2 linked regions of the Homo sapiens genome follow. The protein of the gene in region 2 purifies or fractionates together with the protein of the main gene of each other region. This does not show direct contact. Each region holds a gene or a part of one and is shown on either strand. Other genes may lie near its edges.

Region 1 (3,650 bases), on a different chromosome or scaffold from region 2:
TTAGCTAGGTGTGGTGGTACATGCCGGTAGTCCCAGCTATTTGGGAGGCTGAGGCAGGAGGATGGTTTGAGCCTGGGAGATGGAGGTTGTAGTGAGCCGAGATCACACCATTGTATTCCAGCCTGGACGGTAGAGCCAGACCCAGTCTCAAAAAAATAAAAATAAAAAAATTAATGTAATACAGCTACTATGAACCCACAAAAACTTTAAAAAAATTTTTTAATTATTAAAAAAATGTAATGCTGCTACTGTTTTGCTTATGTAGATTGTGGGCTAGAATAGGAAATAAAACTATCATTTTTAACACTTTTCTGGGGGGAAATATTATTCGAATTTCATAACAATTAGCTTGATGACCTTTTAGAATATATATGTAGACCATTGTGATGTTGGGGCTGCCTGTTGTAAATAGGATTTTTGTGAGCTTGATTGTACAAAATTGAAATTTGCAAACATCTTACTGAGTTTACTGTTTCCTTCTGGGTGTTAGGCCTACTGTAGAAATCAGAAAAATCGGAAATATTTTGTTGCTTGCTTTGTGAAACTCATGATGTGACATGGATTAAATTTCTAAAAAGTTTATTTAATTGCCTTTAAAATTAGTATGTCAAAAAGTTTATTTATTTATTTATTTATTTATTTTAATTTGAAACAGTCTCTCTCTGTCACCCAGACTGGAGTTTAGTGGCATGATCTCAGCTCACTGCAGCTACCACCCCCGGGTTTAAACGATTCTTATACCTCAGCCTCCTGAGTAGCTAGGATTACAGGGGCCCGCCACCACACCCAACTAATTTTTGTATTTTTAGTAGTGATGGGTTTTTGCCATGTTGGCCAGGCTGGTCTGGAACTCCTGGCCTCAAGCAATCCACCCGCCTCAGCCTCCCAAAGTGCTGGGATTACAGGCGTGGGCCACCACGCCCAGCCTCAAGTTAATAATTTATAATCCCAGCACTTTGGGAGGCCAAGACGGGCGGATTGCCTAAGCTCAGGAGTTCCAGACCAGCCTGGGCCATGACGAAACCCTATCTCTACAAAATTTTTTTTTTTAATTTATAATGAGAAAATAAATTTACATTTCCTTCTTAGGTCTCTAGAGGATCCATTTTTTTTCTGCAAAGCATCTGTCCACACCCTCTTACCATGCTTGTATGCCTTAAAGATCTAGCTTGGCCTGTCAGCAGTGTGCTTCATTGGGAATCGATGCAGCACCCTCCTGCCTGCAAGCTGACTAAAAGCCTTTTCCTTCTCCAAAGACTTTGGGACCATTTGTATTCACCAGGGAAAGGGTCAAACAACTCCTGCATCTTCTTCCCCTGCTTTTCTTGGCACATCTACTGATACTAGCTCCTAATTTGGGCAAGAAAAAAGTCAACAACTGGAGGTAGAGTGTGTTGACCCTGGACTCACCCTGAAAGGTAAGGGCACAAGAGATAGTTGTATTTAGCTGTATCTTGTTAGAAAAATACATTTGTGTAGCCAGGCGCGGTGGCTCACACCTGTAATCCCAGCACTTTGGGAGGCTGAGCCGGGTGGATCACGAGGTCAGGAGTTCAAGACCACCCTGGCTAACATGGTGAAATCCCGTCTCTACGAAAAATACAAAAAATTAGCCGGGCGTGGTGGTGGGTGCCTGTAGTCCCAGCTACTTGGGAGACTGAGGCAGGAGAATGGCGTGAACCCAGGAGGCAGAGCTTGCAGTGAGCAGAGATCACACTGCACTCCAGCCTGGGCGACAGAGTGAGACTCCGTCTCAAAAAAAAAAAAATAAATAACATTTGTGTGCATTCATGTGTACGTGTGTCTGTACACATGTACAAGAAACAACCGAGCATTTCTTTAAAAACCTTAGTCAGTTAGAACTGTCTCTGTTGCAGGTGACAGAAAACCCAGTCTAAACAGGCTTAAATATAAAAGGGCTGTTAGTTCATATAACTAAAAAAAGTCCAGGGCTAGAGTTACGGTCCATCTGCTTCTGCCTCCTTGGCCGTAGTTCCATGATTGGGCTCGGCACCATCAGACATAACTTCTTCCCACACACAGCTGTGCTCAAGCAGAAGCCCTCAGGTGGTCTCCTTGATCTGTGTGGGGCCTAGAGTTACTTCCACCACAGCAAAATCTCATTATTGTTGCTGCAGGAAAAGAATGGATACTGAGTGGCAGAAATACGAAACTGGATAAATTTTTGCCTTTATAAGACATTTGTTTCCAGTCCTTCTCAGACTGTATAAATTCTCCCAAGTCAGAGAGCAGAATTCTCAAACAAAAATGCAGGGACAGAACCAGGCACAGTGGCTCACAAGGCCTATAATCCCAGCACTTTGGGAGGCTGAGGCAGAAGGATCAGTTGAACCCAGGAGTTCAAGACCAGCCTAGCCATCATAGTGAGACACCATCTCTACAAAAAATTTAAAAATTAGCCAGGCATAGTGGCACACTCCTGTGGCTGAGATAGGAGGATCGCTTGACCCCAGGAGGTTGAGGCTGCAGCAAGCTGTGATAGTGCCACTGCACTCTAGCCTGGGTGAATACAGCAAGACCCTGTCTCCAAAAATAAAAATTTAAATAAAAATGTTTTAATTCAGGGACAAGCAGTTCTTGATTTTAAAGACGTATCTGCTTTATGTTGGGGCTATCAGAATTCCAGTTGCTAATTGATTAATCTGCTCTGTTAGGAGAACGTTTGTTGAATACCTGCCCTGCCAGGCTTTCTGCTTACACTGGTGGGGGGCACATTGACAAGATTTTGGGCTGTGTTTTCAGGGACCTCCAGCAGAGAAGGGTCACTAGGATACAATGTGGCATGCATGAGCTAAAAACAGAAGTGATTTAACTCTCAGAGGGAAAATGGATCAGATAACACTTCATAGAGATGACGACATCTGGTTCATTTTTGAAGAGTGAATAGAAAGATCCCAGCCCTCCATACCAAGAGAATAACTCCTGCAAACATTTTCTGACCTGGTGCCTGACCAATGGACCACACATCATCAGGAAGGCTAGAAAGTTGAGTTCCAGGAGGGAATGATAGAAGGCAAAGCCTAGAGAGATGGCAGGGGCCAGACTTCAGGGGCCTGGGGATGTGTACTTGCACTCCAAGTCGAGGAGACTGAACTTTTTACCAAAGACTTGGTGTTCTGTAGAAGTATGAGCAGATGAGTGACAAGATCTGGTTTATATGTTAAGAAGTTCTCAGCTGTAAGGTGAATAGATTGGAGGTGTTGGGGCAAAGGCAGGGGACCCAGTGAAGACAAGGAGCGAGGCTCTATACTGAGGCCCTGGTAGAAGTGGAGCAGATGGGCCACCTGAAGAGCTACTAGGAAGTTGACACCAATAAGATGTCGTTAGTCTGTGTATGGGGAGTGAGGGAAAGGAAGAACTTGCCAGTTTCCAGGTTTTAATCCTTCCAAAGGATTTCTGCAGAAAGACACTGGAAGAGCTGTATTCCTACTTATCCTTAAAGGAAAGAAACTGCCCTTGAATTCCAAGGACATGATTACTGAGCTGGAATTCCAAATAATGTGTCCCAGTGAGACTCCTGGGGGTAGTTTTGTCCGGTAACTGTGTGTGTTAGATGAAACTGCAGACTTCCAGCCACTCTATCTTACCATGTCTGTTAACAGTTAATTTGCTCTGATGAATTTGCCCAT
Region 2 (3,650 bases):
AACTTGTTGCGGATGAGGCTGGCAAACTCCCGGGGCTTGGACACCACGGCGGTGTGGGTGGCCTGTGAGAGGCCAGAGAGGCTGCCCTTGACGCCCTCCACCACGCCGCCCCCAAAGCCGCTGATGCCTGCGCGCACGTTGGCGCCCACGTCCTTCAGCCCCTGCTGCATGTCCCGCAGCACGTCCTTGGGCTGCCGCGAGGGCCCGTTCTGCTCAATCTCCTTCAGGCGCCGGCGGTAGTGCTCCAGCTTCTTGTGCAGCTGGGCGATGGTCTGGGCTGACTTCTGGTTCTTCTTCTCGAACACTTGCTTGATGCGTGACACCTGCTGCTTGTCCGCGTTGTTGGCCAGTTTCAGATACTCTGCCACATTGTCGTCGCGAGCCTCCTGCTCAATCTTGATCTGCTCGGTGATCTTCAGGATCTTCTGGTGCAGGTGGTCAATGGCGGCCTTGGTCCGCTGGGGGTCCGGTGCCCCATCGGGCACGTCCAGGCTGATGGGGCCGTCGGTGTCACCATGGCCGGCGGGGAGGCTCAGGGCCACCAGGTCTCCCTTATCGACCTGGGGAAAGAGGCAGGCAGAGGAAGCATGGGTAAACCCTGGGACCATAGGAGTGCCCCTGGATGCCTCTGGACTTGGTTTTTCTATCTAGAAAATGGATGCAGGAGTCCAAAAGAAGACAACCACCACAAGAGCAGTATCCCTGACAGCCACTTACACAGGGCTTTCACATCTGCTCTCTACCCCGTCCCCACAGCATCCCCAAAATGCAGTCTAGGCAGAGCTGCTCCTCTTTTGGCCCAGAAAGGTCAAACAAGTTGTTCAGGGACACACGGCCAGGAAGGGACAGAACCTCCAGCCCAGAACTCTTTTATTTATTTGTTTGTTTATCTATTTGAGACACAGTCTCGCTCTGTTGCCCAGGCTGGACTGCAGTAGCGTAATCTCAGCTCACTGCACCTTCCACCTCCCTGGTTCAAGGGATTCTCCTGCCTCTGCCTCCCGAGAAGCCAGTATTACAGGCACCCACCACCATGCCTGGCTAATTTTTGTATTTTCAGTAGAGATGGGGTTTCACCGTGTTGGCCAGGCTGGTCTCGAACTCCTGACCTCAAGTGATCTGCCTGCCTTGGCCTCCCAAAGTGCTGGGATTACAGGTGTGAGCCACTACGCCTGGCCCCAGCCCAGAGCTCTTAAAGCTCCAGCACATGGACCAGGCAGGTCTGAGGCCTCACTGGAGTCATGGGGTTGGATTTCTGAGGAATGAGACAAATTTTCTCTCTGGACTCAACCACTTCATAAGGCTCCTGCCTTGAGCAGGCCTCTCCCTCAGGGCTGACCGCCTACACTTTGTGCCCTGCCTGCCTGCCCTCGCCACCCCATGTTCACTAACAACGCAGCTCAGCGGGCCACCCTGCCTCTGCTGACACCTCTCCCAGGCCCTCCATTACCTTACGGCTCTCCAGAGTCATTGGTAACCTTTTCCGCTTCATAATGGTGGAAGCCCCCAGTCCTTCCTAGTATCCGAGAATTGGGAGAGGAGCATGCCCCACCCCCACCCTGCTGGCCAGGTCCCCGAGGACTAAAGCCCCAGAAGTAACTCAAAGGCCAAGGGAAGCAGGGACCAGTTTGGGGGCCTGAGGCTACTAGCCGCCCAGCTTTGCAGAGGGTGAATGCGTAGGAAGGAAATGACAGCCCCCTTCACTCCCCACCAGGCGGGCAGGCTTCCCGAGTGCATCAGGGTGGCACCAAAGTCGGAGAGACAAGGAAAGGAGAAGAGAGACTAAGAAAGGATGATGGGGAGGGAGAGAAAGGAGGAAAAGGTCACAGGAGATAGGAAAGATGGGAAATGTAAGGTGGGCTGAAAGCGGGGAGGCCTGAGACCTGCTCCCCTGGTGCCTGGTTCCTCTCAGCCTGTTGGAGGATCTTTCTGTCCACAGCTGAGTCCCCAGTGTCTTATCGCCATACAACAACGGAAGCAGCAGGAAATGGCTCAACCCCATGTATTTTTACACACAGCACACCCCAAGCAAGGCTGGGTCAGATCATTTGCCCTTAGTATGTATGGGAGGGGGCAGGGGTGTGGTCAGATATATGTGGGGGAAGGGGTTAAACACAAAGATAGTGGCCCAGTCACATGCACCAGAACTGGAAACAGTCCCTGCCAATTACAGGCATAAGTCACTTGGCTTGATTCTGCCAAGGTGCAAAGTTATTGGAAAACACGATTGAAAATAATAGCCCTGCCAAACTCAGGAGCCAGGGGAGGGCGGCTCCTCTGTGGGCTTCCACTGGGGCTTTTCCAGGTTACACTTCCCCCTGGGGATGCTGTGGACAACCACAACCCCATCCCTAATCACTCCTGAAGTCAGGACTTCCCTCTTATGTTTGCTTTGGGTCTCCCCTCATCCCCCCTTGACCTCCCAGCAGGTGCTCATACCTTCAGGACTCTGCTTCTCAGAATTTCTGACCTTTCATACCCACAGTCTCCCTTAAGTGATCTGCTCCAAGGTCTTAACTGTCCCAGTAGCCTGACTTAAAACCCTAACCTGCAATTAGGCTGCTTCTTCCTGCCTTGTTCCCTGCAGTGACAGCAAAAAGCCCATCTCTCCATTTTCCTGACCTTCAGTGTCCTCGCCGACAAAAAGCGGGTAATCACAGCTACTCTCAGGTCTTTTGTGAGAGCTATACAAGATGACGTCTGGCAAGCTGGCATAGTGCGAAGCATACAGAAGGTGCTCATTAAACGCTGAATCTGAATCTAGGCAGCGTAATCCCTTTTTTCCCCTGGGAGAAAAAATGCCTGCAATCAAGCTGGCCTAAATTTATTTCAGAAATTATACCAACAAATTTACTCTGTATTGCTAGAACTACACAAAATTAACGGTTTTTTTTTTTTTATTTGTTTTTTGTTTTTTTTTGGAGACGGGGTCTCTGTCGCCCAGGCTGGAATGCAGTGGGGCCATCTCAGCTCACTGCAACCTATGCCTCCTGGGTTCAAGTGATTCTCCTGCCTCAGCTTCCTGAGTAGCTGGGATTACAGGCATGAGCCGCCACGCCCGGCTAATTTTTTTGTATTTTTAGTAGAAATGGAGTTTCGCCATGTTGGCCAGACTGCTCTTCAACTCCTCATCTCAGGGGATCCACCCGCCTCAGCCTCCCAAAGTGCTGGGATTACAAGCATGAGTCACCGCGCCCGGCCCAAAATTATGTTTTATAGGCAACACATGGCCTTTGATGTTACAGAACTTTTTTTTTTTTTTTTTTTTTGAGACAGAGTCTCGCTCTGTCGCCCAGGCTGCAGTGCAGTGGCGCAATCTTGGCTCACTGCAAGCTCCGCCTCCGGGGTTCACGCCATTCTCCTGCCTCGGCCTCCCGAGTAGCTGGGACTACAGGCGCCTGCCACCATGCCCGGCTAATTTTTTGTATTTTTAGTAGAGATGGGGTTTCACCGTGTTAGCCAGGATGGTCGCGATCTCCTGACCTCATGATCCGCCCGCCTCAGCCTCCCAAAGTGCTGGGATTACAGGCTTGAGCCACCACGCCCAGCCCAGAACCTGTCTCTCTTATAAAGCTGCTGCCCTTTCCACAGATGCCCAGCTCTCTTTCACTGTCTTCTTGGGAGAAAGAATATCTAGAAAATGGGTTCTG

The links. The genes of interacting proteins can lie anywhere in the genome.
Region 1: the proteins of TMCC2 (region 2) and MARK3 purify together in Homo sapiens (affinity purification with mass spectrometry; 2 studies listed by BioGRID and IntAct, with this or other methods). This does not show direct contact.

What each region holds. Positions count from the first base shown.
Region 1 is NC_000014.9:103,486,290-103,489,939, forward strand, and holds part of MARK3 (MAP/microtubule affinity-regulating kinase 3), read left to right. Parts: intron 1-3,650. UniProt on the Homo sapiens protein: Serine/threonine-protein kinase. Involved in the specific phosphorylation of microtubule-associated proteins for MAP2 and MAP4. Phosphorylates the microtubule-associated protein MAPT/TAU. Phosphorylates CDC25C on 'Ser-216'.
Region 2 is NC_000001.11:205,265,860-205,269,509, reverse strand, and holds part of TMCC2 (transmembrane and coiled-coil domains protein 2), read right to left. Parts: intron 561-3,650; coding exon 1-560.